Homo sapiens: one gene and its partners. The protein of the gene in region 4 interacts with the protein of the main gene of each other region in a pairwise test. Each region holds a gene or a part of one and is shown on either strand. Other genes may lie near its edges.

Region 1 (8,281 bases), on a different chromosome or scaffold from region 4:
GGCCGAGGTCGGCAGGTCACCTGAGGTTGGGAGCTTGAGACCAGCCTGACGAATGTGGAGAAACCCTGTATCTACTAAAAACACAAAATTAGCCAGGCGTGGTAGCGCATGCCTGTAATCCCAGCTACTCGGGAGGCTGAGGCAGGAGCATCGCTTGAACCCGGGAGGCAGAGGTTGCAGTGAGCCAAGATTGCCCCATTGCACTCCAGCCTAGGTGACAGAGTGAGACTCCATCTTAAAAAAAAAAAAAAAAAAAAAGTTACCTAACTAAGTACATGTAATTTTGGTGTGCTATATATTTCCCACATTCTATCTTACACATCATGATGTCACTTCCTTGATATAATATAAAGACATGGTCTTTGGAGTACAACTGACCAAAGTTCAAATAAATACCAACTCTGCCACTTGTTACTTAACCTCTCTAAAAGCTATAGTGAGGGTTAAATGAGATTTTGCATAAAAACCACCTGCCAAATAGTAAGAGTTCAGTAGGTGACAGAGGTTATGAAGCAGGGAGGGGAAATCTAGTACTTTTATCACAGTTTTAGAAAAGCATTCTGCATTCTCAAAAGGTTTAAAATAGTGCTCTGGGCTGGGCAATCCTAGCACTTTGGGAGGCCAAGGCGGGCAGATCACATAAGGTCAGGAGTTCCAAACCATCCTGGCAAACATGGTGAAACCCCATCTCTACTAAAATACAAAAATTAGCCGGGCATGATGGCGGGTGCCTGTAATCCCAGCTACTCGGGAGGCTGAGATAGGAGAATCGCTTGAACCCAGGAGACCATGGTTGCAGTGAGCCGAGATCACATAACTGCACTCCAGCCTGGGCAGCTGAGCAAGACTCCGTCTCAAAAAATAAATAAAAATATAAATAAAAATAAATACATAAATAAAACAGTGCTCTGGTTCTAATTAGAAAACACTATTCGGGCCGGGCGCAGTGGCGCATGCCTGTAATCCCAGCATTCTGGGAAGCCAAGGCGGGCGTTTCACCTGAGGTCAGGAGTTCGAGACCAGCCTGGCCAACATGGTGAAACCCTGTCTCTACTAAAAATACAAAAATTAGCCGGGCATGGTGGCGGTCGCCTGTAATCCCAGCTACTCAGGAGACTGAGGCAGAATCGTTTGAACCCGGGAGTTGGAGGCTGCAGTAAGCCGAGATCGTGTAACTGCACTCCAGCCTGGGCAACAGAAACTCTGTCTCAAAAAAAGAAAATACTATTCATCATTTTCCAGGGCAATTCTCTCTAAATAAGTATTATCTAAAACTTTCATAAAATAAATAGTAAGAAAGAGTCATCCTATTCCTTCCATTTCGGAAACTATTTCATCTGAATTTGTTTCCTGAAATTCCCAACCATTCTGCCTGGAAAATTCTAACAGAAGTTCCCCAGACAAGGAAAGACAAAGATATATGTTGACAAAAATGAATACGTAAGTAAAAACCACCCATTTCTTTCCTTAAGGCAACAAGATTATAAATTTTATTCCTTTCCACTTCCCACAATTTGAATTTCTCTTTTGAGTTACTCTTTATGAATGACTCCATTGGCACCCAACAGCTCCATTCAGGACCTTCCCCAAGAAAGCTTCCAGGTAAACAGAAAAACAACGAATGTTAGCTCCCTAAAACAATAACAAGATGGAGACAAAACACTGGATTCTGTTTTTCTACATTCAAAACACAGAATCAGTACACAAAATCAGAAATACACCCAGAGCCTCAGACAAAACCCATAAACCTTCCTAAGGAATCTTGTTTAATTTTCACTTCTTGCTACCCATTTATCAAGTCTTAGGAAATGCTAAAACACGGTTCTCAGCCTCCTCTGTTCAGTGATCCAAATCTGCCACTGCTAATGCATTCAGTACCCCAGATCTGAAACTGTTTTGTGAACAGAAATACTTAGCAGCAGCAGATATGGGCTATGCCAACATTAACCTTGTCCCTAAAACAAAGTGACAAACCACTCCTAGCCTCACCCTCAAGGGAGGGTAAGCAGTAACGACTCCTCCAGGAGTAAGGCCAGGAAGCCAGGTTTATCATTAACACTCATCAGCTCAAGCCCAAGGTTTAGCCGCTGCACCTCCACCACCAGGGAGCCGTGCGGGGCGGGCAGAGGGGTGAATGAGGCGGGCGGGCGGGCGGGGCGTAGGGTAGGCCCGGGAAAGGCGGGGCCGCACTGCCGGGTCCCCCACCGCCCGGCACCGCCCCCAGCCCCGCCCCCAGCCACCCGGGCTCCGCGGCAGCTCTGCAGTCCCCGCGCGATTGCAGCGCGCGCCCGGGACCCCTTCCCGCAGCCGCCTCCCCCTTGCTGCGCGACCCCCAGCACTTACCTGCTTTGCAAACCGGGGCGCTGGGGCTCCTCTTCTCCGGCGAGCTTCGGCTCTGCTCCGGAGACCTCCTCCGATGCCGGACGCGGGCTGGGGGTGGGGCCGCGCTCACCTCGCCGGTCCACAGGTGGGTGGGCGACGAGCTGGGCGACGACACGGTGCCCAGCAGCGGCGGCGGCGGCGGCGGCCGTGGGGGGCTCCCGCGAGCTCCAGGCGCGGCGCTGCGCGTGGGGCTGGTGCCTCGCGTGGACGTCGCGGACGCGCCCGTCTGCGTGGCCACCGTGGGGCTGGTGCGCGCGGCCGCGTTCCCGCCGCCGCGCGTGGGGCTGGTGCTGCGCGAGGCGGTGCGCGGGCCACCGCCGCCGCCGCCGCCTGCGGGGCCTGAGGCGCCACCACAGCAGCCACCGTTGTTGTTGCCGCCGCCGCCGCCGCCGCTCCGCGTGGGGCTGCCATGTTGCTGCTGCTGCTGCTGCTTCAGCTGGAACGGAACCGTCGCCCTCATGGGCTGCAAGCGGCTCCCGGGTCCCCCGGCCGTGGCCACCGCACCACCCCCAAGGGAGCCGGCCGGCGTGGGGGACCCATTGCGCCTCACCCGCTGGGACATGGTCCCCCCCCTCCCCGGTGACTGGGCGAGACGGGGGGTTTTGTTGTTGTTGGGCTGCAGGGGGAGGATTCTCGAGGCCGGAGGGCAGGCCCCCCAAGACGGGGTGACGAAGCCGGACTCCGGGGTGCAGGGGGAGACCGGGCCGGGGCAGGCAGCAACGAGGTGGTGCAGCCGCCGCCGCCGCCGCCGCCGCTCCTCATCAACAATAGTGTCTCCTCTGCTGCCCCCGCCCCCCACGATCGCCCATTGGTGCAGCGTCAGCCGCGCTCGAGCCGCTCCACTGCTCCCATTGGCTACGAGCAGCTCGGGTCCCGGGCCCCCGAGGCCTTGAGAGCCTGGGTGTGCGCGGAGACCGTCTGCTCTTTAAAGAGAAAGAGACCCGCCCCCCGCGGGGAGGGAGCGGAGGAAATGGGCCCTGTGTGTATGTGTAGTGTGCGCGCGTGTGTGTGTACACGTGAGTGCCCGTGTACGCGCGCGCCTAGCCACGCGCGCCTTTCCTTTCCCGCCGGGGGGAGCCCTGGGGACTCAGACTCTGGAAGGTTGCCAAAGGAAATGTCCAGACCCGGAGCAGTTCCCAGGGATGGTCTGAAGCCTTTTCCGCATAACTCATTTCCTTACCCCAGTGTTCACTTGTGTTCACCTGTACGCGCATCTCGTTCGGGCTTTTATTCTTAATGTTTTTGTTCTGCCCTAATTCCATCTACCTATGGGCAGGGCTCAAAAGGAGAAGAAATTTAACTAATCTTACTGGCATTTTACGCCCCTCTCCTTTTATTTTTTAGAGCTCTACAAAGAGGCAAATCTCAGAAAGATTAAACTTGCCTGTTAGAATGCGATTTTAGATAGTATCTATAGAGTTCAGTTACCACATGTTATTCCTACCCTCCTGTATCTCAAGTAATCAAGACTATTTTAATCAGCTGCTTCGCTGTTCCCTGATACCTTGGAAGGATGGCTGCTACCTTACCAGTTTGTAAAGTGCTATAGTTTACAGAGGGCCTTATTTGATTCTACACGATCATTGTTTGAGACAGAACTGGGACAGCCATCCATATTTTTGTCTAGCGGAGGAAACAAGTCTTTGGTGTGGCAAAGACTCGGGAAGGCAGGCAGTGACACTATTTCTAAAATGACCTAAAGGGCTCCTCATCAAGAAAATAAAAAATGGTGGAGCCAAAACCTACACTCCCACCTGTCTGGCTATAAATTGCCTATCCATGACCTCTTTTCCCTCTACTATTTTTATTAGTTGTACATGCTAGACAGATTTCGTCGTGTAAAAATGTGGGAGTGGAGGGCATAGTATGATTCACTCTGGACCTGAAATCCTACTGGGTCCCTTTGCGCGGTGGTGGAAGGCCTTTTTTTTTTTTTTTTGAGAAGAAGTCTCTCTCTGTCACCTAGGCTGGAGTGCAGTGGCGGAGTGCACTGGCTCGAATCTCGGCTCAGTGCAACCTCCGCCTCCCGCGTTCAAGCAATTCTCCTGCCTCCGCCTCCCAAGTAGCTGGGATTACAGGCGCGTGCCGCCACGCCCCGTAATTTTTCTGTTTTTAGTAAAGAGGCGGTTTCACCATGTTGGCCAGGGTGGTCTTGATCTCTTGATCTCATGATCCGCCCACCTCGGCCTCCAAAAATGCTGGAATTACAGGCGTGAGGTGGAAGGCTTTTAAAGACCTAGAGAGGAGGCCGGGTGTGGTGGCTCATGCCTGTAATCCCAGCACTTTGAGAGGCTGAGGCGGGCGGATCACCTGAGGTCGGGAGTTCGAGACCAGCTTGACCAACATGGAGGAAACCCCGTCTCTACTAAAAATACAAAATTAGCCGGGCGTGGTGGCACATGCCTGTAATCTCAGCTACTCGGGAGGCTGAGGCAGGAGAATCGCTTGAACCCGGGAGGCAGAGGTTGGAAGGAGCCGAGATCGTTCCATTGCACTCCAGCCTGGGCAACAAGAGCGAAACTCTGTCTTAAAAAAAAAAAAAATTAAAAAAAAAAGACCTAGAGAGGAAATTAAAATCCCATGACCACCACTTACTCTGTGACCTTGAGTGGATCACTAGCCAGTCTCCTTATCTGTAAAATGCAGTTAAACAGTACCATGTGCTTCATACTGTTGTTATGATTATTAACCAAGGATGATATGAGAATGTGGTGTGTAGAAGATGGTCAGCACTTCCAGAGTCTCCATGTGATTCAGAGACCCACATCTCTCCTTACCATCCATTCCCCTTTCTCCTCCTCTCTCCCCCTCCACAGAGAAAGCCCCAGCCCCTTAGCCCAGGAACCTGCCTTAAGTTGGCTGGTGCTCTGGATAGATCTGACGTCACTATCTGGCCCCTACAGCCTGGTGTGAGGCCAAAAACAGCTTCTCACTGGATAGGAACATACAGGAAACTGCCAGCAGGATCCATGCAAAGAGCCAAGTCTGGTCTGAAAAGCATGGATAGACAAGATATGCCTTTAAATAAGGATGTAATCCCAGCACTTTGGGAGGCCAAGGCAGATCACTTGAGGTCAGGTGTTCGAGATCAGCCTGGCCAACATGGCGAAACCCTGTCTCTACTAAAAATACAAAATTAGCCAGGCATGATGGCACATGCCTATAATCCCAGCTACTCAGGAGGCTGAGGCAAGAGAATAGCTTGAAACCCGGAAGTCAGAGGCTGCAGTGAACGGAGATCTCGCCACTGCACTGCAGCCTGGACGACAGAGCCAGACTCTGAAATAAATAACTCATGGAGGCTGTATGTGGTATGTGGTATTTTGTCTTGCACAAAGTAGGACCTCAATACATATTTACTGAATTAATCCAAAGGAAGTCCTGCAGCCCTGGTGTCCTTAGCTTCCTGATCAATTGATTTGGATATCACCAAACTAGAGACATCTTTGTTGGTGGCAAGAGGCTTTTAGCTTGCCTGAGCTGAAGAACTGATTTCAGCAGATCTTATTAGATTTCATTAAATCAACTGATTTCACTAGATCAAAGAGCTTAAAAAAATGTCCTTGGCTCAGTCATGAGATCTGATGGAGCCATTTCGCCTTTTGCTTCTAGTTATGTTTCCTACAGAAACTCAAACCTACAGTTCCAGGAAATTTGTTTTCATCTTATTTGATAGCTTACCTCACTCATCAGTGTAGGGCTTAACTTTAAACAAATGAGAGCACTTCAATTAAAGCAGGTAATTAACCACTTCAGCACCCTTTGTACTAAAGGATATTTGTGATGACTTGTAAATCAAAGCTTTGAAACCATGAAATTTGGCAGGGCACTGTGGCTCATGCCTGTGATCCCAGCACCTTGGAAGGCCAAGGCCGGGGGATCATTGAGCTCAGGGGTTCAAGACCAGCCTGGCCAACAAGGTGAAACCACGTATCTACAAAAATTAGCTGGTGCATGCCTGTAGTCCCAGCTATTTGGGAGGCTGAGGTAGGAGGATCGCTTGAGCCCAGGAGGCAGAGGTTGCAGTGAGCCAAGATCATGCCACTGTACTCCAGCTTGGGAGACAGAGTGAGACACTGTTTCAAAAAAATAAAAATAATTTTTAAAAAAGTATTAAATTATTAAAGAATGCTAAAAAAGAAGAGAAAAACTTGCTTCGATAACTTAGAGCTCTTCAGTCTGTTTTTAAGATTTAATGGCAATGAATAAAAGCATCATTTACTCTTGACTTCATTATCTATTGTTGAAGATTCAAAGAAAACAATGTGCATCAAGGTGATGTATTGGTTTTTAGTTTGCTGGTTTATCTACAAAGAGAGTCCTTGTATTTCAAGGATCAACAAAATAAACGTATCTCCCTCTAGTTTAACCCTGCTCTTCTTAGGATATAATTCAAATTTTCTCATTTTCTCTCCGAGGTTGAAACGTGACTACATAAAATTGTAGACAAAAAGCAACATATTGGAATTGGTTTGTCTGTATTTAAACTTCAAAAGACAAAATTATTGATAGGCTCATTTGCTCCTGTGCTTGCTTAACTCTACAATGATCCTGCTGTGGTAAAAGAAGATGGGTTTTATGAAAAAGTTTATTGTCCTGTAGTGGTTTCTTTTCTTCCTTTAGTTATTCTAGAATCAGCTGTATCCACTTACAGACCTCTAAAATGTCATTGAAGGAACATTATACAGCCATCAAAATGGTAATTATGAAATCACAAATTCCTTTCACTTTAAATGAAAAAAATCAAAAGTATGCATCCATTGTAATTATAATAATTAATCGTATAAAAGGCATACACCTTTTATAAAATACTGACATGAAAATAGAGGCCTGAGGACAGGCACAGTGCCTATAGTCCCAGCACTTTGGAAGGCCTAGGTGGGCAGATGCCTTGAGCCCAGGAGTTCAAGACCAGCCTGGGCAACATGGCAAAACCCTATCTCTACAAAAAATTTTAAAATTAGCTGTACATGGTAGTGCATACCTGTAGTATCAGCTACTCGGGAGGCTGAGATGGGAGCATCACCTGAACCTGGGAGGTCAAGGCTGCAGTGAGCCGTGAACACACCACTGCACTCCAGCCTGGGTGACAGAGTGAGACCCTGCCTCAAAAAAGAAAGAAAATAAAGCCAGGCACAGTGGTTCACACTTGTAATCCCAGCACTTTGGGAGGCCGAGTTGGGAGGATTGCTTGAGCCCAAGAGTTTGAGACCAGCCTGAGTAACATAACAAGACTCCATCTCTACAGAAACTTTTAAAATTAGGGCCTGGTGCAATGGCTCACACCTGTAATCCCAGCACTTTGAGAGACCAAGGCAAATGGATCACTTGAGGCCAGGAGTTTGAGACCAGCCTGGCCAACATGGCAAAACTCCCTCTCTACTAAAAATACAAAAATTAGCCAAGCATGGTGGCGCACACCTGTAATCCCAGCTACTCGGAAGGCTGAGGCACGAGAATCGCTTGAACTCAGGAGGTAGAGGTTGCAGTGAGCTGAGATCATACCACGGCACTCCAGCTTGGGCAACAGAGTGAGACTCTGTCACCCAGAAAAAAAAAATACATACATATATATATACACACACACACATATATATATACACATATGTTTTAGCCAGGTGTGGTGACACGCACCTGTAGTCCTAGCTCCTTAGGAGGCTGAGGTGGAAGGATCCTCTGAGCCCAGGAGTTTGAGGGTGTAGTGAGCCATGATTGCACCACTGCACTCCAGCCTGGGTGACAGAGTGAGACCTTGTATCTAAAAACAAAAAAAGAGGTTTTTCCCCAAGAAATGTTGATACATGATTTCCTAATTAAAAGGAGAATTGTAAGAACTTGAACTCCTGAGTGATATTCTGTATGTAAAATCTGACTGTTACTTCACTGAAATTTGTCTTAG
Region 2 (7,741 bases), on a different chromosome or scaffold from region 4:
ATGTAGCTAGTCTGTCTTTTCTGTTTTGCCCTCTTTCACGGCAGCCTCTGAAGTTTTCCGCAGGGGAGCTTTCTCCGAGTTGGCATGTCCTTGGCCAGAATCCGCCGCTCCGCCGTTCTTGTGAGTAGTGTGTTTTTCCAAGTAGTTCAGCATTTCACTGAGAACTGTTTGGAAAGTGCTTAGAGCTGCACATATTGCCGGAGTCCCAAAGCCATGAGTGATCAAACTGGAAATGAGAAGTGATAGGAAAAAAGAGGTGAATGATTTGCAGTATCATGTGAAATAGCAAATCTCTCCATATAATTCAGAACATTCAATTAAACAGGTATTCATTGTGTTCCTAAATGATGCTAAGCATTGTGGAAGATACAACACAGTTGAAGGTATTGCTCTTGACTATGTAAGAAATGTAGGACCAGTTTGGAAGACTTGTCGTTAATAGAGTTGATATGCACTAATTATTATTTATATATATATTTTATTATACTTTAAGTTCTAGGGTACATGTGCACAACGTGCAGGTTTGTTACATATGTATACATGTGCCAGCTTGGTGTGCTGCACCCATTAACTCATCATTTACGTTAGATGTATCTCCTAATGCTATCCCTCCCCCCTCCGCCCACCCCATGACAGGCCCCGGTGTGTGAGTTCCCCTTCCTGTGTCCAAGTGTTCTCATTGTTCAATTCCCACCTATGAGTGAGAACATGCAGTGTTTGGTTTTTTGTCCTTGCGATAGTTTGCTCAGAATGATGGTTTCCAGCTTCATCCATGTCCCTAGAAAGGACATGAACTCATCATTTTTTATGGCTGCATAGTATTCCATGGTGTATATGTGCCACATTTTCTTAATCCAGTCTATCATTGATGGACATTTGGGTTGGTTCCAAGTCTTTGCTATTGTGAATAGTGCCGCAATAAACATACGTGTGCATGTGTCGTTATAGCAGCATGATTTATAATCCTTTGGGTATATACCCAGTAATAGGATGGCTGGGTCAAGTGGTATTTCTAGTTCTAGATCCCTGAGGAATCGCCACACTGACTTCCACAATGGTTGAACTAGTTTACAGTCCCCCCAACAGTGTAAAAATATTCCTATTTCTCCACATCCTGTCCAGCACCTGTTGTTTCCTTTTTAATGATCGCCATTCTAAGTGGTGTGAGATGGTATCTCATTGTGGTTTTGATTGATACGCACTAATTATTACCAAGTCTAAATATTTAACACATGACTTGATTCTCCACCTCATTAAGAAGTAGCTGGAAAACACACCTTTAGATTCTATGTGTGGAAACATCTTGCTTTCAAGAATGGCATATATGGCATAGACTACACATGAAGAAATCATAATTGGCTGAGTGTGCCTCATGGCTAGCTGTCCCTCTGACTTCATTCTCCTTTTCCATAGTAATGCACTTTAATCTGGGCATATGGCCATCCAGCTGGAGACTACATTTCCAAGCTTCTTTTGCAGTGAGTTTTGGACATGGGACTTAACCTACCCACAATGTAACATAAAGAGAAGTGATACATGCAATTCCCACTTGCTTAAAAGGGTAGCTATGCCCTATGTAGATAATCGCTTAGGTGGCAGGGACAAAACAAGTTAGAAGGAACCTATTCATCTCCAGACTCCTAAATGAGAGAGAAATAAAACCCTGTCTTATGTAAGCCACCCAACATTTAGGTCCCGAAAACTAACTAATTAACTAATAACAAAAACTAATAAGCAAATATAAGGAATGTTATGGTAACCTCAGCATAGGTAGTTCTTCCAACCACGACAAATGTCATCTTTGGTTGAACAAACACATAACTGTAGATTTAGTCTTCTTGTGAACAGAAGCTACCCAGATTGTTCACTTATGTTAACTGTCCCGAAGTGACACTACCAGTTTGCTTCCTACGTCTCATAATAATATAGAAAAACATCCTTGTCACATAGTATGCCCATGTTATAATATATATATATATACAACATTGTGCATATGTGTATAGTACATTTAATAAAGCCATTAACTGCTAAAGTCCTAGCTTGTAACTGTTATTATGACATTAGTAGTTTTTGAATCAGATATACCACCCTTCATAATATTTTAGCTACCTATAGTTTTCTTTCTTAAGTTACATAATCTTTAACAGCAAAAATAATAATATTTTATAATAATACAAATGAAGGATTTGGGGTTTAAGGCAGCCTATTAATATGCCTCAGTGGAGGTAATAGTAAGATCTACCATGTGGGGTTGTTGTTTTTATTAGTCTACGCAAAGGGCTCAGAAGGATGCAGATCTAAACAAAGTCTTAGATAAATGATAGAGATTGTTGGCTGGGTATATTTTCTGGGTAGAGGGTAAAATTTCTGCATGTCCCTCATTATTCCATAGGTTGTTACCATCTTTCTTCCCTGAGCCTCCATCATAGTTAACATATATTAAAAAGAAAAAAAAATTCCCATCTCTGATTATGTGGGAAACAACAATGGCCAATGCTTGGGCAATTATCTGCACCAAAGTTTGTGGTGTAAGACATCATCACTGCTCAACTACTATATCCACACCTCTGCTACAAGGTCTTGCATTGCCAAACAGGAAAAATAATTTAAGCTCTATTTCTACAATGAGACAACTAGAGGGGAAGCCAAATAATTTGAAATCTATCTGGGATCTTGGACAACAAATGGAATTGTTGGAGTGGTGGAAGAATTAATCATGGTGATACCCACAAAAAGAACTGGGTAAAGCCAACCATTAATGTCCAGATATTTGACCCCAGGCACAAACTGTCTCTTTTCTCATGTTTTATTCCTGTTTAGAGCTCCTTTTTAAATTTTCTTCTATATTGGCATGTCCTCTTTGTTGTGACTCACCTCTTCATCTATAGCAGAATATACAATATTATTTAGTTTCACAGGGTATTATTGAAGTTAATATCTAATTTTTGAGTTCTGAACATATGTCAAGTCCTGTTCTAAGTTTTTTATCTGTATCACTTCATATAATTCTAGTTACAACACTAAGAACTAGATAATATTATTTCCATTTTACAGACGAAGAACTGAGTCCCAGAGAAGTTAAATAATTTGCCTGAGAAATTGGATATTCTGTACTTATGTTCCTCCCAGGCTGAGGGTACATTTTTCTCTGAGAAATCACATTTTCTGTGGGCAGTTTTAGCTCAGTTCCTCTGACTTAACTTTGTACTTGGGCAGCCTTGATGGCTGGTAAAATCAGATGCTTTTTACTCACTTTCCTGCCTAAGAGCAGGGTTTTTAAAAATCAAGCACAGGTAGGTAGTTATATATAAATGCTTTTATTATCCACTTTGAGAAAAGAGCTGTTTCCATATTTAAAGATTCCTCTTAAGCTGGTATCACTTCTTGACTGATGGGCTTTCTTGTTCCAAAATATGGATCTGATCATTAGCAGTCTGCATTGTCATCTTTGCCTTGGATTGAGAACCAAGTGTACCAAGTCCTCACACTGGCTTTGACGTCAGGCACTTCGTGATTTGGAGGAAGTTATTTAGCCTTGTAAAATGACAGTAGTCTAACAAGAACATCTGCTAGGTTCTTTCCAACTCTAAGCTTCAATTTAAGAGTATAACATCTTTATGGTGTTATTAAAATCAAGGACATGGACACAGGTTATGGAAGTTGAAAAACCACTTCAGGGCTGGGCGCAGTGGCTCATGCCTGTAATCCCAGCACTTTGGGAGGCCAAGGCAGGTAGACCACAAGGTCAGGAGTTTGAGACCAGCCTGAGCAACTGGTGAAACCCTGTCTCTACTAAAAATACAAAAAAAAAATTAGCCGGGTGTGGTGGTGCATGCCTGTAATCCCAGCTACTCAGGAGGCTGAGGCAGGAGAACCGCTTGAACCCAGGAGGCAGAGGCAAGATCGTGCTATTGCATTCCAGCCTGGGCAACAGAGGGAGACTTTGTCTCAAAAAAAAAAAAAAAAAGCCACTTCGTTCAACAAAGAACTCTAAAATCAATTGAAGGATATTCAATATAAAAAAAAGTCATTTTGACTTTCATGACCTGAAAGGTCATCTTTCAATATGAAAAACATTATGTAAATTTTGTTAATTACCTAATTTAACATTACCTGCATATTAAAAATATGCATAGCACACTGCACAGAATGATAATAAATGTAAGGCAAAGATTCTTTTCTAGCAGTTTTCAGTGAAATTTATGAACCCCAAATAATTAAAGTAATCTAATGTACTACAATAATGTAAAAAGAAGTGTGCAATCACAGTATGTTTTAAAAAGTTCTGGGAACATCATGCTATTCTTTTAGCCCCAGTCATCCAGAAAAATAGGTGTGTATCTCATTCACAGTGACATACAGAAAAGGAGGGGGCTGGGTTCAGTGGCTCATGCCTGTAATCTCAGAGCCTTGAGATGCCAATGTGGCAGGATCACTTAAGCCCAGGAACCTGAGAGTACAAAGAGCTACGATTGCACCATTGCACTCCAGGCTGGGCAACAAAGCAAGTCTCTATCTCAAAAGAAAAAAAAAAAAAGGGAGAGAAAAAAGAAAAGGAGAGAGGAATAATGTAGAATCTCCAAAAAAAAAAAAAAAAGAAAATTAGAAATAGAAGGTCTGACTTTTGATCCTAGACAGGAAAAAAAAAAAAAAAATAAGACTAAGGTCACCTGCAAGGTAACGAACTATAGTCAAATCTTCAAACTCTTTGACAATAGAGATGATTTTCAACTTTGGAAAATATTTTTCAGTTACAGGTTTGATATTTAAGTTACCCTTGGCATTTGCATATAATTTCACCAGATTACTGATGAGAGCGCATTTCACATGCAAATATCACCAGGGTTAAATGGCCCATGATGGTTTGAAATAGGCAGTCAAAATATAGAAGTTACTTAAATTCTAAATTCTAAAACTCTATCCTCAATGAGGCCCTGGAGACAACTTGCATTGTGTTAGATAAGTCATGTCTATGCTACATTTGTAAAAGAACAGTGACTATAGAGGATTCACAGGTCATATCAGTTTTCTTAATGTTTCCTAGGTTGCCTTCCTTCACCCTATGTAATCACGTGCTCTATTACCTTATTTTTGCAAAGTTTATCTCAAGCTTATCTCTTTTTAATACCCAAACATGACCGTTATTCCTATTTCTGTGTGTTTGTGTGTCCTCCCTCTCTCAGCCAATTGAAATTCCACTCAAAGAAACTCACAATTTCTTTGATGATACTGATGAAAAAGGGATTAGTTTCCTCATGCCTGAAAAACAGGTGTGTTACTTCCAAAGGATAGAAACTTGCCAAAGTGATGAGAGGACTTAAATAAAATTCCTGGGAGAAAGAAGTAACAATCCCCAAACAAATGTAAAACTATAGCACAGAGGGGACAATGGGAAGAAAACAGGTGAGGCTAAACTCTCTGTCACAAAGTGAGGAAGAGGAATGGGAATAACATTGGTAGCATCAGAGCAAAACTGACAATCCAGGTATATCAGATTTTTACTACAAGTGGTAAATCATGTTCCTCAACATAATAAAGACCATATATGACAAGCCTACAGCTAACATCATACTCAATAGTGAAAAGCTGAAAACTTTTCTTCTAAGATCAGGAACAAGAAGACGGTGCCCACTCTTACCACTTTTATTACTATTTTACATAGTACTGGCAGTCCTAGACAGAACTATTAGGCAACAGAAAGAAATAAAAAGCATCCAAATCAGAAAGGAAAAAGTTCAATTGTTTCTGTTTGCAGATGATATGATTTTAGAAAATCCTGAAGACTCTGTGAAAAACTGTTATAATAAATGAATTCAATAAAGTTGCATGATACAAAAATCAGTTGCATTTCTAAGCAGTACCAGTGAACTATGTGAAAAATTAAGAAAGAAATTAAGAAAGCAGGCCGGGCACGGTGGCTCACGCCTGTAATCCCAGCACTTTGGGAGGCCGAGGCGGGTGGATCATGAGGTCAGGAGATCGAGACCATCCTGGCTAACAAGGTGAAACCCCATCTCTACTAAAAATACAAAAAATTAGCCAGGCGCGGTGGCGGGCACCTGTAGTCCCAGCTACTCGGGAGGCTGAGGCAGGAGAATGGCGTGAACCCGGGAAGCGGAGCTTGCAGTGAGCCGAGATTGCGCCACTGCAGTCCGCAGTCCGGCCTGGGCGACAGAGCGAGACTCCGTCTCAAAAAAAAAAAAAAAAAAAAAAAAAGAAAGCAATCTCATGGTATCAAAAGGAATAAATAGTATCAAAAAGAATAAAATACTTAGGAATAAATTTAACCACAGAGGATTAAAGATCTGTATACTAACAATTATAAGACACTAATGAAAGAAATTAAAGAAGGCACGAATGAATGGAAAGCGATAACCTGTGTTCATGGATTGGAAGCATTAATTTTTTTAAATGTCCATACTAAAACCAATCTATGGATTCAGTGCAACCCCTACCAAAATTTAAACAGCATTTTCACACAAATAGGAAAAACAACACTAAAATTCATTGGGAACCATGAAAGACCCTAAATAGCCAAAGCAATCTTGAGAAACAAGAACAAAGATGAAAATATCATGCTACTGATTTCAGATTATATTACAAAGCTATAGTAATCAAAACAGTATAGTACTGGCATAAAAACAGACACATAGACCAATGGAACAGAACGAGTCTAGAAACAAACCCTCATATATGTAGTAAGCTAATCTTTGACAAGATCTTAATGAATACACAATGGGAAAAGGATGGTCTCTTCAATAAATGGTTCTAGAAAAACTGAGTATCCACATGCAAAAAAGTAAAATTGGATCCTTATCTTACACCATACACCATACACAGAAATGAACTTGAAATTGATTAAAAACTGAAACATAATAAAAGACCAAAACTATAAAGCTCCTAGAAGGAAAAATATTTTTGGCATTGGTCTTGGCTTTATTTTTTGGACATGACACCTAAAGCACAGGCAACAAAACCAAAAATAGGGAAATGGGATTAGGTCAAATGAAAAACACTTCTGCACAGTAAAGGCAACAATCACAAAATGAAAAGGCAACCCATGGAATGGGAGAAAATATTAGCAAACCATACATTTGGTACAAAAATTAGTATCTAAAATATATAAGGAGCTCATGCAACTCAATAGGAAAAAAAAAACAAATAACCTGATATTAAAAATGGGCTTAGGACACAAACATACAGTTTTCCAAAGATGACATACAAATGGATAGTAAGTATATGAACAGATGCTAAACATCACTAATCAGTGATACACAAATTAAAACTACAATGAGATATCACTTCACATTTGTTAGGATGGCTATTTTCAAAAAGCTGAGAAATAAGTGGTGGTGAGGGTGTAGATAAAAGTTAACCCTGCACACTGTTGGTGGAAAAGCAAACTGGCGCAGCCATTATGCAAAACACTATGAAAGTTCCTCAAAAACTTAAACATTAGAATGACAACATGATCCTGCAATCCCATTTCTGGTTATATATCTAAAGGAAATGAAACCAGTATCTGAAAGAGATATCTAAACTCCATGTTCATTGCAGCATTATTTCTAATAGTCAAGATGTATATAAAATTATTTAGCCATAACAAAGAAGGCAATTTTGCCATTTTGACAACATGAATGAATCTGGAAGACATTATGCTAACTGAAATAACCCAGACACAGAAAGACAAATACTGTATGGTGTCATTTATATGTGAAATCTAAAAAAGCCAAACCATAAA
Region 3 (7,903 bases), about 110 Mb from region 4:
TTCATTGTTATTATTCTTCAACTTTACTGAATGCCTTATTCCATACAAGAAAAGGCATAAAAATTTAATCCCAGACCACAGGAGCTTAAATTTCCCTTAAAACAAGTCACTCATTCGTGATTATTTACATAAAATGCTTCTAAAGACAACCCAGAGATTTGGTTGAACCTACAGTGTGCAGGCAATGCAAATTCAGGTATTTAAATCATGGGAAGTTGGCCTTCGGTTCCCTAACAAAATTAGACAAGTGCATAATTATCGTTTAATAAAACAAAAAACCTACAATTTGGGGTCCTAACGACATACACAGGAATTCAGAAGGAAACCTGAAATCCTTTCTCCTTTAAACCTTCTATATCTGGACAAGGGCCCTCATTATCTTCTACTTCTATAGCTCCTTCTCTTAACACAGGAGCTAAATTTCCTTGAAACATGTTATGAAGCCACTGCCAGCACGGTGGCACTTGCCTATAGTCTCAGCTACTGGGGAGGCTGAGGTGGGTGCATTCCTTGAGCCCAGGAGTTCAAGGCCAGCTTAGGCAACATAGCAAGATCCCCATCTCTAACTTAAAAAAAAAAATTATATATATGTATGTACACACACACACACACACACACAAATACATATTTTTATAAGAAAATTATTGGGCCAGGCGCATTGGCTCATGCCTGTAATCCCAGCACTTTCGGAGGCCAAGCCCAGCAGATCACCTTAGGTCAGAAGTTCGAGACCAGCCTGGCCAACACGCCAAAACCCCGTCTCTACTAAAAATACAAAAATTAGCCGGGCATGGTGGCCCACGCCTGTAATCCCAGCTACTCGGGAGGCTGAGGCCGAAGAATCGCTTGAACCCAGGAGGCAGATGTTGCAGTGAGCCGAGATCGCACCACTGCACTCCAGCCTGGGTGACAGAGTGAGACTCCGTCTAAGAAAAGAAAAAGAAAAAGAGAACTATTTCCACAAAAATTGCCGACTTGGGGATAAGAACTTTTCTTTGTTACAGGAGACTATGACCACTGACTACTAAGCAAAAAGTCATTTTCCCTCCTATATGTCGAGTTTGAGGCTGTGTGAGGAAATTAAAGGACTTCAAATAAGGATGGGCCAAAAGATTAAGTAGAGTTTTTGTTTTTGTTTTTTTAGATGAAGTCTCGCTCTTGTCCCCCGGGCTGGAGTGCAATGGCGCGATCTCCATCTCGGCTCACTGCAACTTCTGCCTCCCAGGTTCAAGCGATTCTCTTGCCTCGGCAGCCCCCGCCCCCGCCCCTCCCAGCAGCTGGGATTACTGGCGCCTGCCACCACGCCCAGCTAATTTTTGTATTTTTAACAGAGATGGGCTTTCACCATGTTGGCCAGGCTGGTCTCGAACTCCTGACCTCAGGTGATCCACCCCGCCTCGGCCTCCCAAAGTGCTGGGATTACAGGTGTGAGCCACCGCACCCGGCCGTAAAGAGTTTTCTTAATCTGATTATTGTTTTTTTTGGTCATGGGCCCTGTTGAAAGCCACTAAGTCCTATCAAAAGAAAAAAAAACCCCTTGACACAAAAAAATTCTGCCCACAATTTAGGATCCAAGTTAAGAATAAATATTCTACATTGCATGTGATAATTATGTCTGCTTTCGGACTCATAAAATAAGGAAATTACACTCAGATGCACGGAGAGAACTAGTCATATTTTCACTGTCTTACGGGGTAACCTGTCAAGAACTGTCAAATACAATTTTAGGGAGTCGGGATACTAATGAATCAAACACACACACACACACAAACAGCATCTCCAAGACTCCAGCACCCCCCTTTCCCAATTACTTACTGGTCAAGCCCAAAGGAAAAATAATTTTTTAAAAGGCTAGGCTGAGATGGAATGGGAAAAAGGATCACTGTGAGCACAGATGATGTCCCGGGACAAAAGCTCTGCCCAACACTGCCCAAGCTGACAGGCTCACTCACACTACCTTTCTCCTTATGCGTCTCTCAATACGCAGTCTCTGAACACTTAAAAAAATGTGAATTTTGCTCTGACCACATAAAGAAATCAGCACGATTGACACCAGCTCTAAAATAAGCAATTAATATATTCTAATCTAATGCTTAAGAAGAATGGAGAGCAGGCAACAGCTCCTCCAACTGGTTGGAGCAGATATCACTGGAAGCCCCCCAAGTATTAAGATTTTTAAACAACTTCAAGTTCTGGTGGGCACAGCCAAATACACTGCAGAAACTTTGGGACCAGCAGCCACGACACAACAGGTGAGAGAGGCAGCAGACATCATTGCACGATGGAGTGCACAACATTCAATGACAAACCCGAAAAGGTCTGGGGATATGGGAAAATACCATGCACACGGCCATCTCAGAGCCCCTGTCTTTCCAGTGGCAAAAGGTTCTGTTCCTTCGGAGGGGCGTGCCACTCCCCCTCTCCCTCACCCAGGGGACCACCACCCCAGGCACAGGAAGAACCGCGGCCCCTCCGCGGGCACATCTCAGCTGGGGAAGAAAACACAATGTCGCTCCTTATTTCTGCGTACAAAAGGACTTTGCGCCCTCCTCCTCGAACTGCCGCCCCGGCCACCTCCTAACTTGCAAGAAGGTGGGCAACGCGCCATATTCCAGCGTCCCCCAGTCTACCTGGGTAACAAGCCCACGCCACCCCGGCAGGAGGGAAGCTTCGGAGGTCGCCCAAAGAGCCAGCCTCCTCTCCCGCAGGAGACAGCGGCTCCCGCGCCCCAGCCCGGCCCCACCGCGCCGCCCGCCCGCCCGCCCGCGTACGAGAGCCGGGAAGGGCCGAGGGGGCGAGCCGAGAGCCGCGGCTCCGGTCCCGCGCAGCCCGCCCACCTCCCGCTCCCGGGCCCGGCGCACTCTCCCGCGCCTCCCGCTCCCGAGCTGCGGGAAGGCCGGGCCCCGGGTTCCACGGCGGGGAGAAGGCCGCGGCCCCGAGAGCCCCAGGCGGCGGAGGAGGCCGGAACCCTGGGGCTCTCGGGAGGGCAGCGCCTCCCTCCCGAGCCCGCCAGGACGCCTGGGGCCTAGTGCGGCCTGCGCATCCTCGGGGTGGCGGTTTGGCTGGGCCGGGCCGGGGCCCCCCGCCCGAGGCGGGCCGAATCCGGCGGGGGCCCAGGCCCAGAGCCGGGGGCGGCAGGGTGCCGGCTGCGGGGCGGGCCGGCCGGCCGGCGGGCGGGCGGCGTGTTGCGGCTGCGCCGGGGCTGAAATAGCTGGAGATTGCGCGGTAGGGCACTCACCTCAGAGCGGCTGCGCTACCGTGGGCCTGCGCCGTGGAGACTGCGACCGCGCCGGCTCCTCGCAGCCTCCTGCCACCAGCGGCAATGGCGAGCGCTGCCGCTTCTGCCGCCGCCGCCGCCGCCGAGGAGGGGGAGGGGAGGGAGAGGGCACGCACGCGACGCACGGCCCGGCTTCCCCGCCCGGCCGCCGCCATGATGAGGAGGTCGGCGCGGCTGTGCTGCGGGCAGGCAGCGGAGAGGGCTCGCGGCGAGGGCTCCAGCTTACCCCGCCGCCGCGTCGCGTGCACGGAGCGCTTCAGAGGTTTGGAGGGGGCCGGAACCTCAAAAGCAACTGGATGAGCACAACGCGGACGCCCCGGAGAAGCGGCGCAAGCGGGCCCAAAATGGTTGCTGATCAGACGAGTGGCATCTCTCGCCCCCCTACCGCGGGAATTGGGACCTCCAGACTGTGCCTGGGGGATCGGCAAGTGGTTCCCCTCTGGTTTTTTCGGCGCTGCCTTCCCGGTGGTATCCTCACTCTCTCTCTTTGAAATGACCTCTGCTTTCCTATCTCTAACTCTTCCCAGATATTTGAAAGCAAGTTTTTGTACAAAGCAACATATGAATGTATTCAGCCATTCGATCGTTCGGCGAACATTTCTAGGTGTCTCGTGCTGTGCCAGATATTGTTCTGAGTGCGCTGAAGATGCACCTGTTAGCAAGACAAAGTCCTGGCTCCCACGGAGCTTATTCGAAGCAATAGGGGCCCCCAAGCAGGTGCCTGAGAAGTAGGGAGGGGTGGACAGTGGGAAAACAACCTAACGGTGGAGACACACGAGGGGTCTTTTTTTACTTTTAGAAACGGGGGTGGGTGGTCACCCTATGTTGCCTAGGCTGGTCTCGAACTCCTGGGCCCAAGCGATCCTCCCGACTCAGCCTCCCAAAGTGCTGGTATTACAGGACACCATGCCCGGCAGAGGGGTCGTTTTTGTTGTTTTTTTAGTGTCGTCAGGAGACTCCCTCCATCAGAATTACTCAGGCTGATTGTTTTGAGTCCTGGGACCCAGTTGGTATCCAGAATCTTGGCTTGTTTGCCTAGGAACCTGCATTTTCACATCCCCATCTCCACACCCCTGGTGATTCTTATGCATATAATAATGTGAAAAGCATTGCATTGAAGAATTGCTAAAGGGTGTCAGAAAACGGATTAACAAAATCAGGAAGCTTTAATTTTCAAGATTCTATTAACCTCAAAATTCAACATATCCAAAAATTGAATGTCTTTTTCTCCAGTGTTTTCTAGGAGAGTGCCAACACTAGCCACCCAAGTGCTCAAGCCAGAAACCTGGAAATGATCCATTACTCTTTCCTCTGTCTCTGGAGTCCCCATGTTAAATTAGATGTGTTTGTTTGTGAGACAGATTCTCACTCTATTACCTAGGCTGGAGGGCAGTGGTGCAATCATTGTTCACTGCAGCCTCGACCTCTCTGGGCTCAAGGATCCTCCCACCTCAGCCTCCCCAGTAGCTGGGACTACAGGTCCCCACCACCACGCCCGGCTAATTTTTGTATTTTTAGTAGAGATGAGGTTTCATCTTGTTGGCCCGGGCTGGTCTCGAACTCCTAGGCTCAAGTGATCTGCCTGCCTTAACCTCCCAAAGTGCTGGGATTACAGCCGTGAGCCACTGCACCCAGCCCCAATTAGATTTTTAAAACTGTTGTTCCCTGTCAGTTCTTACTCTGGTTCAGGCTACTGTCATCTCTCCTAGAGACACTGCGGTAGACTCCTCTTGGTCTCCCTGCCACCGAAATTGCCCTCTCCAAATCCACTACAGCTTGAATGGTCTTTCAAGAAAGAAAATCATGTTTTTTCCCTGTTTAAGACTCTTAAAAAGATCTGATTAACACGTAGGATAAAGTCTAAAATTCTTTGAGGTGGCTACAGGGCCATTGGTGATCTCATCCCTGTTGCCATCTCTGACCTCATCTGCCACAGATATTTCTCAGGCTACACTCAAAACTGGGAAGCTCTCAGGTCATTTAAGCCTGGAAATTGTGCCACCTCACAACTGTTGCAAGGGCTGTTCCCTTTGCCCATAACTTCATTTCTCTCTACACCATCTATGCACTTACTTGAATCCTCACCTGAATAATTCTTACCATTCTTTCAGATCCCAACATTAATACCATCGCCTCCAGGCAGCATTTTTTCATCTCCCAAGATTGGGTGCATTAGACCCTTTGTCATCACACCCAGTACTCCCCACGTTTATTGAGCGCTCACGATGCGTCAGGCCCTAGTGGAAGCCTTTATGCACATTATCTTCTTTCTCATTTAATTATCAAGTAGAGCCCACAAGGTAGGTACTACCTTTTTTTTAACTTTTGAGACAGGGTCTCACTGTATCTCCCAGACTGGAATACAGTGGCGCAAACACAGCTCACTGCAGTCTCATCCTGGGCTCAAGCAATCCTCCCATCTCAGCCTCCTGAGTAGCTGGGACCACAGGCAGATGCCTGTTGCCCAGGCTGGTCTCCAACTCCTGGGCTCAAGCCGTTCTACCTTAGCCTCCTAAAGTGCAGGGATTACAGGTGTGCAACTGTGCCCGGCCTGGGTAGTTACTAATATTATCCCATTTTACAGATGAAGAAACAAGGACATATAGGGGTTACTTGCCCAAACCCAGACAATAAGCTAGATCTGAAAGTCATCAGCCTGACCTCAGAGTTGTACTTTTAACCATTATCAGGGTCTCAGGCCAGTACCCACTGATGAAACACATAAGTAACTTAGTGGGTCATTACCAACATTTCATTAAAGAAATAGAAAATGGCAGAGAACATCAAACTTAGTAAGGCTCTTGTTTCGTGAAACTTGTCAGATTCTCTAATATGATAAATACTAAATCTTACAAACATTGAAAATACAAAATTAAACAAAATATTACCAAGGTTAACACAAAAGTATGAATACTGCAGATCTGATTTATTTTACTATCCTCATCTTTAATGCAGAACCTTCTTAGGATTAAATGACATTTACCATTCTGAGCAAACTGAGGTTACTGCCCCAAACGGACTGGGCTTACCTTTGCAGGAGAACAGGGGAGGCTGTGTTTTGGCTGGAGATTTTTGGCTAAGAGTCAAGACACAGAGATTCTTCTGCTACCACTGTGAACACATCAAGTCCCTTTCACATAGATGCTGTTTCCACAAGGGTCTCCCCACACCCTTCCCTACAGATTAGATTCCCGTGATGCCTTATTTAATTCTTGTTGGATCTGTTGATTTGGTTATGAAGTAGGTGAAATTCTGGTAACCTCACCCAGGTTCCTTCCCCTCTTGATTAGATCCAGCCAGTCTGTTCGCTGGATGATTAAATTTGGCATTCATTTTTCTGTGCTTTCCCTATCTGCTACTATCCTAAAGTCATTCTAATGACCAAAAAAGGTGCCTTGAGCCAGACTGTAGAGGGTTCTAATGGCCTCCTTAGAAATTGTGTTTTTTTGTTTTTTTTTTGAGATGAGGTTTCGCTCTTGTTGCCCAGGTTGGAGTGCAATGGTGCGATCTTGGCTCACTGCAACCTCCGCCTCCCGGGTTCAAGCGATTCTCCTGCCTCAGCCTCTCAAATAGCTGGGACTACAGGCATGCGCCACCACGCCCGGCTAATTTTGTGTTTTTAGTAGAGACGGGGTTTCACCATGTTGCCCAGGCTGGTCTCGAACCCCTGACCTCAGGTGACCCACCCACCTCGGCCTCCCAAAGTGCTGGGATTACAGGCCTGAGCCACCATGCCTGCCAAGGAACTGGTTCTTAGTAGGCAATAGACAGTTGACAATTTTGAGCTAAGCACTAAGGTCATAGGAGTGTAGATTCACCAGGGAGTGAGTTGGGCTTCTGGTCTCTAGAGGGCGCTCAAGGCTTCTCCCTCCCCACCCTCTTCCTTCCCCCAAGGTGGAGGTAGGATGGTGAAGAAATTTCATCTCCCCACCACCAAACACACACAAAGGAAGAAAATCTTACTAAAATTGGAGAATATGGAATAACATTTTCTTGGGATGGAGCCCTTAAAAGATAACACGTTCAACAGAAAGTGCTGCGTCTTTCCCGTTCTTCAACATACTCTGAGTGGTAACAAGGGCTGCCCTTGCCTTTCTCAGAGGCAGCCCAGCCAGCTTGTTCTCTTTCCCTCTCCCACAAGGTAGCCAGGCCCTAAGGCTATGGCCCACAGAAAAAGTCTTAGCAAGGCCCCGGGCTTGGGGCAAAGAGGCTGTGGATTTGTCTTTCTCTCTACTTTTTCTGGTTAGTGTGCCTCTATCCCACTCGGAAGAAAAGTTCCAAGACTCAAATTTGGGCATTGATGTGGGGAGGATAGACAGAGATGACCAGAATCCAGCCTATCTTTCCTGACTTCTGCATTGTGGTTCATACCCAGCTAATAATAAAGTGTTCCTTTCCCTGGTGTGTCATTGCACATGTACTCCCCACACTCCTGATGAGTAGAGATGGCTGGCCAAGACAGGATTCAGACATTCCCACATCCCCAACCAAACATCCTCTCCATACCATCTTATTAATCAGTCTTTGAACAATTTCCTAAACTCCCTAACAGGTTGGAGATGGCTGGAAGAAATGAAAAGAAGAACGCCAACAAAGGCGATAAAGAAAAATTCAACACTGCTTGAT
Region 4 (7,398 bases):
TACAATTATTACACTCAGTTCTGTGATAGAAGGAGTGTGTGCTCGTGTACCTAACAGAAAACCTGAAAATCAGGTAATGTGGTCATAGAATCCTCCTAGAGAAAAAGATACCTAATCTAAATAATTCATCTTCAATTGAGATTAAAAACAAACAAACCTGAGATGGAAAGAGTGTGATTTGCCTGAAGATGCAAGGCTAGTTAGGGTCAAACTGAGTCCGAGGCGTCCCTAAGCCTAGCTCTCTCTCACCTCACCATGCAGCCTCTAGTCCCATCACTACAGCAATAGAGGTGTTCAACTCTTGGGCAACATCCGAATTGAAGGTCACACTTACACAGAGCTGTATCTGCAGGTTCGTAAGCATAGAGACGATTTGAATATCTTCCAGTGATATCGGCTCTAACTGTCAGAGATGGGTCTGCAAAGATAAATGAAGCAAAAGGGAATGGAATGGTTTGTTTTCAAACAACCTGTATTTATTGCCCCGGGGAGCTGAAGTTCATGTATTCATGTCCTGTGAGGGAATGGAGTGTGTCTGCACTCACAGGAGCTCTGATCCATCCACTCTACTACCCAGCCCCTGGCAGTTAGTAGCAAATGCAGGGCTGGAAACATCAACAGCTGTGCAGTGCTATTTGTGGAAAAGGTTATGAACCCTTCTGTTCTATCTATGGCAACCTGAAAACAGAATAATATATATTTAGGGGTGACATGGTGTTTTTTTTTTTTTTGGTGAAAACATTAACATTCTCTACTGCAAAATTATTTTAAATTCTTGAAACGATTATGTTGTAGTTTACATGTTTCTAGATCATTGGAAACCCACATCCAATGCTAGTTTTCAAAACGAGTTTTTTAAAAAAAGTTAATAGAGGAATGCAAGTCCTTAACAACAGCAAAGTTCAAATAAGCATATAGTACCTTCACTATATTTTACTTTATTGTTAATTAACTGCATTTTTAAAAGTAGAGATTGGTCTTCTCTTATGTATACTTATATCCCTCTAAATTTAAATCCATCTTGCCATGTTTTGTATTTAACTTGAAGTGATCTAATTAATGAGAAAAAGAGGTATTTTAAAATTAAGGTGCATCCAAAAGGGAAGCGTGAGGATACAGAGAGATCTGGAAACCTTGCCTTGAGAGACGTAATCGAAAGAACCTAGGACACGTGCCCTGAAAATGAGACAAGGAAGACATGTGAGAACCATCTGCATGTTTGCAAAGTCTGTCGCTGGTACTGGAGTGGGCAATCTGTCATTTCAGAATGTTGGACTAAGGCCAGACACATAAATTACAAGAAGCAGATGTACATTTATTCACCAGATTTAAGACCAACTATACTTCTGTTTGGTGCAGAGGATACAAAGACACGGTCTAATCTTTGTAAGAAATTAACCTAAGAAGGGCTTTTTAAATACCCAACTAGCAGCTCACCTGGCTGCACATTGGAATCATCTGGAGAGCTGTAAACACTATGGATGCCTGCCTCCCACCCCCAGAGATTCTGATTTAATTGGTTTGAGGTGTGGCCTGGGCAACTTGATCTTTAAAATCCTCCAGGTGATTCAAACATGTAGTCAGGGTGGCTACTACGGAGCTAGAAGAGCAAGCTGCCTTGGAGCTGGTTCTTAGGACTGAAGGAATTGAATGTGGGTTAAAATGCCCTTCCACAGGGATGCTGTACAAAGAATTCCTGTACAAGGTATGAACAGACATCTATAAATTCCCTTTTAATGTTAGGATTCCAAATGTCCTAAATTCTGACAAAACTAAACCTATAAAATTAGTGCTTTAGTTCAGCCTTCTTCCTTTTTTTCTATTTCTTGTTTTTCTTTTCCCTGCTTTGTACATTCAGTGTAAACTTTTAATGAATTACACAGGTGAATCATATGATTAGCATGAATTGTTGTAAGTGATGGATTTCATTATGGATTGTCCTTAAATCAGTATGACTTTGAACAAAGCCAAACTCAGTACATTCATTCAATAATTAAACACATATTGATGGAGAGCCTACTGCAGGGTCACGTTGGGAATATCATGGTGAGCAGAAATAGGTACAGTCCCTGCCATAGGGGCTTATAGTCCAATGTGGGAAATATTTATTACATAACCACCCCCAAACTGCAAAATTATACCTGAGGAAAGTATGACTACAAGAGCACATAGTAGGGATTTGACTCGGTCAATGAATAATGATGATTGGGGAGTTAATGATGTGAAATTGGGGGACAGAGAAGGAAGTGGGGAAAGCATATGAAAAGTACCAGTGGCAGGAAGGAGCATGTGGCTCCTTTCATTTCTTTTTCCCACCTCATATTCCTTTTTTTTTTTTGAGACAGAATCTCGCTCTGTTGCCCAGGCTGGAGTGCAGTGGTGCCATCTCGGCTCACTGCAACCTCTGCCTCTTGGGTTCAAGCAATTCTTGTGCCTCAGCCTCCCAGGTAGCTGGGATTACAGGCTCCTGCAACCACGCCTGGCTAATTTTTTTTTTGTATTTTTTAGTAGAGATGGGGTTTCACCTTGTTGGCCAGGCTGGTTTGGAGCTCCTGACCTCAAGTGATCTGCCGGCCTTGGCCTCCCAAAGTGCTAGGATTACAGGCGTGAGCCACCCAGCCTTATTCCTAACTTTCTTAAAAATAATGATAAAAAATGTCAGAAAAATCTAACACACAAAGTGAAAGTTTGCTGGATTAAAAAATAAATATTTGCAGGCCTCTCGTATTCAGGAAATTTATCAATATGTTTAAATAGTGAATAGGGTGCTTTGTTCTCAGAAGTATTATAGCAGAAGATGAAAAGTTACAATTAGCATGTGAGAAAAGAAAGTGTTGTGTGGAAATAGGTAAAAGCTCACATTTTCTAAAGAAAATATGTTGCGGAACTTAAAGGAATGTCATGCTCCTTGCTAGAGCTTAGTGATGACATTGGCCATGGCAACGTGGCAAGGGACAGTGGGGAGGAGAGAAGGAGGATGGCAGCACTAGTATGTGTTTCCGAGTTATCTCACTGTCACTTCCGCTTACCAACAAACATAATCCTGGGGACATACTGGCCATCAGGAGAAAGGTGTTTGTCAGTTGTTTCATACTAAAATAAAAAGAAAAGCATCTTTTAGTTTACTTTGACTTTTCAGTCGTTTTCAAACTTGTTAATACAAGAATCTGTCCATTTCCGGCCAGGCATCTCAAGATATCATAACTCTTCCACACAGAGTTTATTGTACAGATGAGGAGACAAGTTACAAGCATGAAATAATAAATAAGATAGAGCAGAACATGAGATAAAGTGCTGAATGGATGTGATAAAGAGCAAAAAAATTAAGGGAGAATTTGGAAGGAGTTACTGTGTTTGGGGAAGACATCTGGGATGAAATAAGAGGCTATTAAGGAAAAAAGCAGATGTCATTTCTAGAGAAATTACGGAGACAAGTACGGGATTTTCTTGAGTATTCATTTATCCATTTATCAATTTTTATTTAGAACTGTATTTAGCAAGGCATGGTGCTTATCTTTAATGAATGCACACTCTATTGAGAGATACAGGTAGGAAAATGAATATTGAGGATGCAGTGGGTGAAATGTTACGGTGTAGGATATGCAGGTTTGGTGATTGCCTTGAGCAAGACATTTAGCCCAGAATGCAGATTCCACCCCGACTAGGACTTTCTGAAGTGGATAAGGAGGAATCTTTACAAATGAACAGGAGTCAGTTAGGTGGAAAAGAAAGACACTTCATGCAGGGGGAAGAGTATGGAGAGGACAGGTGGAGCATTTTCTCCTATGGCCAAGTGCTGGGGAAGGACTGAGTTGGGGGGATGCACGAGGGCAGTGGCGAAAGAAGGTGCTAGAGCTGCTTCAGGGGCCGGCTTAGGAATGACTTTGCACACCATGCCATAGTGTTTTCCTTTGTTCAGAAATAGTTAAGAACCACTGGAGGGATGTTAGAAGAGGCACTGTGACCCCAGTTTGGTCTGTAAAGCAACTTCTCTGACAGCCATGTGGGATTAGACAGAGTTTATCTTGTAGACCAGGAGCCATTTAGCAGTATTACAGTAAGCTAGGGAAAGTGAAAGAGGCTTACTAAAATAGTGGTCCTGAGTTTATAGAGAAGTGACTAGTAGCAGGAATACTTGGAATTTAGAAGCACAGGGCTTATTGCATGCTGTAGGTAAGTAGGAGAGTCCAATCTAGCACAGTACCACTTTCAGTAAAATAGGGAATAGAGAAAGAAGAGCTATTGGAAAAGCGCAAACCAAGATGATTAATGTGCAGTGAGGAACATACTGAGTTTAAGCTGATTATGAGATATCTGGAATATGGTTGGATAGACAATTTGGAAGTTGTTTCATGTTTGGGTAAGATGTAGGAATTATTAGTGTGTCGGAATTGATTAAAGGCAGTTGTAGATGGAGTTGTTCACTGAATACAAAATATGGAAAGAGAAAAGGGTCAAGTAGAGATTCATCATGTCACTCACATTAAGGAGTAGGAAGAGGAAGAGGAAGAGCCCATGGAAGAGAGGCAAGGAAGAACTACTGGTGCGAAGTGGTCTTTAAGGAAGCCAACCTGTGAAGAGGAAGGGCCGGAGGGCTCAAAAGGACATATGATTAGGTAGAGTCATTTTTTTGTTGGCTTGCTTTTAGAAGGAAAATGAAACATTTGTATACAGTAAAAAGAACTTGCCGAGACAGAAAGCTTGAGCACCGTGAGGGGTGGTAGTGGTGAAGTAAGGTGGGAATGCATGAAGCTAAAGCACAAGAGGCATGATTAGAGTTGGAAAGCCAGAGAGCTGTCTCTTCCCAAGAGATGACCAGGATTAAGAATGGGTGTAGAGAAGCCAGGACTATAGAGGGACAGGCACAGCAAGTAACAAAAACCTTCCAGCAACAGAAAAAATTCTGACTACGGGAGATAATTTTTCAGACAAACTAAGATGATTAATTACTAAATAAAAACAGACACACCAAATGGATTATTAATACAACGAAATATCTTTTTTCTCTCTAATTTATGAGATGGGATATTTGGAAGCAATCCCAGTTAATGCAGTATAACTAAGATGTATAGGAAAAATGAATCATCCATTTCAAGTAATGAGCCATAGAGAAATGTTAGTAATGATGAAAAGGAAACTTACAACCAGATTGAGGAGGACAAACTGCTCTGCCAATTTCTGGATTTCTTTATTTTCAGCAAACACTTTCTTTAAAGCTATAATATAAAGAAAAATCATTAAGCATCCATCTTAGCATTGGTTAAAAGCTTTGTTCAATTTTCAGTTAAATTGCATTTTATTTACTTATTGAATTGCATTTTAAATACAGTATTCTACTTTGGCCTTTTAGCAAATGATTAGTGAAGTAATATCTATGGCATTGACTACCTCTGCTTTCTATTCACTCATTCATCCATTCATTCATCAATTCATTTTTTTCTCCAGCTCATATTTATTGAATGGCTGCCATGTGTTACGCACTGTGTTCTGTACTAGGGATGGTGCAGTGAACAAAAAAAAGCATGTGTTTTTTCACAGAGCTCACATACTTGTGTGGGAGACAAACCATAAACAAAGAAATAAGTAGATGATACTTTCAGGTAGAGATATGTACTTTGAAGAAAAATAAAGCAAAGCAAAGGGTTTAAAAACTGTGAGTGGTCAGGGCAGATCTTCCTGAGGAGCTAACGTTGAAGTGAGGGAGTGGTCCATTTTGGGGTAGGCCACTGTGGGCAGGGGGAACTGCAAAAGCACTAGCTGTGAGGTGGGAATGAGCTCACCTGTGGGAGGAACAGCACGAAGGCCAGGCTGGAGAGAGTGAAGAAAGCAAGAGGAGAGTGGTAGGAAGGGAGAGATAGCCATTGGCCTGATCATGTCAGCCTCATAGGTTGTGATCAGAAATTTGGATTTAGTTCTGTGATAAGAAGCCACTTGAGCACGTGAGTGATGGAATCTGATTTATGTCTACCAGCCTCACTCTGGCTTCTGTGTGGACTGGCTGTAGGGTGGCCAGTTAGGTGACTGTTATGGTAGTCTAGACAAGATCTGATCTGGGCTTGGACCAGGGCAGTAGCATGGAGGCAATAGGAAGTGGTTGGATTTGGGCCCAGTGCAAAATGAAAGGGTAGAGCCCCTTGTTGAAGAATTACTAAGACTTTTAAGACAATGATAGCCAAGTTTAAACCAAGTTTGGGAACCTTCTAAGCTTGGGGCCCTGTGAGATGGCACAGGCTTCATGCCTGTGAAGCTGGTGCTGGTTTAAGGATATATTTTGAAGATAAAGCCAGTATTTGCTGGTGTATTGAATGTGGACTGTAAGAGAAATCAAGAAGTTGAAGATGAATCCTAAAACTAGTTTTTCAAAATATGTACCAATGGTTATCACAAAATGTGGAGATATTTGAAGTCACTTTTAAATATGTTTTTACTATATAAAATATTCTTTCTTTAATGCAACTGTGGTTCTAAAGATACAAACATGAGTGATCTGAACCCTGGCCCTAAGGCTAAAAGCCTATAAAGGAAATCATACTTAGAAGAATAAATTACCTTGACTGTGTGGGCACTCATCCAAGTGATGAATAATCATCAAGGGTTTGTTGCTTTAAAAGACAGAGATTAGACAAATTTTAATGAGTAAGATTTCACATATATCTAGATGTCACTAGGTGGTGCTCTTGAGAGCTTTGAGGGAGCTCTGAGTAATCCTGATCTTTACCTTGTCTTGGATTTATATAGAGCTTCTTCATATGTCTGAGTCCAGATGAGTTGGTCACCCCAACCTAGAATGAAATGAATCAGTATATTTGAAGCTTGTATAAATTCAGACCCAAAGCTGTTGAAAAGCAATGGTAAAGACTGGGATAATAGACCCTATACTAAAGAAGAAGAAAAACCCCTGGAGAAAGTAGAAATAATTATAAACAGTGATAAGTCTAGAAGGAACACAACCAAAAATAACCTGGCACCAGGTTAGAACCAGGTTTAAGCACCAAGAGAGAGGAAATCTTTTCCAATTAAGTAGCAGTTGGAAGCCAACAAGAAGCTGACTCCTACCTCTGGAGAGGGTCTGGGGCAGTTTGGGTCGAGAGTCCTTTGTGTCCTTTTTGGCTCCAGGTTTGACTGTGGTATCTCTGGCCAGAGTGTAGGAGAGGGCCACAAGGAGCAAGAATGCTGACACTGGAATTTTCTCCATGGCAACTCTAGTATGGAAAACCAACCAAAATCAGTAAACAAAATTGAACTAGCAGTCTTCAGGGTCTGCAGGTTGCCCCACAACGGTGGAATATACCAGAAACTGAGGCTCTGCTGAGACTGGACATACGAGATTGGCGTAAATAGCTCTGTTCCATGGGATTTTCCTAAGAATACAGGTGGTCTTTGACTTACAATTGAGTA

What was found.
Region 1: the proteins of AGR2 (region 4) and FAM117B interact in binary tests that used the Homo sapiens proteins (3 or more experiments, as listed by UniProt).
Region 2: the proteins of AGR2 (region 4) and TFAP2D interact in binary tests that used the Homo sapiens proteins (3 or more experiments, as listed by UniProt).
Region 3: the proteins of AGR2 (region 4) and NRF1 interact in binary tests that used the Homo sapiens proteins (3 or more experiments, as listed by UniProt).

The regions. Positions count from the first base shown.
Region 1 is NC_000002.12:202,629,851-202,638,131, reverse strand, and holds the start of FAM117B (protein FAM117B), read right to left. Parts: upstream 3,164-8,281; 5' UTR 2,945-3,163; coding exon 2,344-2,944; intron 1-2,343.
Region 2 is NC_000006.12:50,765,130-50,772,870, reverse strand, and holds part of TFAP2D (transcription factor AP-2-delta), read right to left. Parts: intron 227-7,741; coding exon 7-226; 3' UTR 1-6.
Region 3 is NC_000007.14:129,607,160-129,615,062, reverse strand, and holds the start of NRF1 (nuclear respiratory factor 1), read right to left. Parts: upstream 3,344-7,903; 5' UTR 3,239-3,343; intron 1-3,238. UniProt on the Homo sapiens protein: Transcription factor that activates the expression of the EIF2S1 (EIF2-alpha) gene. Links the transcriptional modulation of key metabolic genes to cellular growth and development.
Region 4 is NC_000007.14:16,794,602-16,801,999, forward strand, and holds part of AGR2 (anterior gradient protein 2 homolog precursor), read right to left. Parts: intron 7,203-7,398; 5' UTR 7,196-7,202; coding exon 7,057-7,195; intron 6,783-7,056; coding exon 6,719-6,782; intron 6,603-6,718; coding exon 6,550-6,602; intron 5,217-6,549; coding exon 5,143-5,216; intron 3,094-5,142; coding exon 3,030-3,093; intron 419-3,029; coding exon 335-418; intron 1-334. UniProt on the Homo sapiens protein: Required for MUC2 post-transcriptional synthesis and secretion. May play a role in the production of mucus by intestinal cells. Proto-oncogene that may play a role in cell migration, cell differentiation and cell growth. Promotes cell adhesion.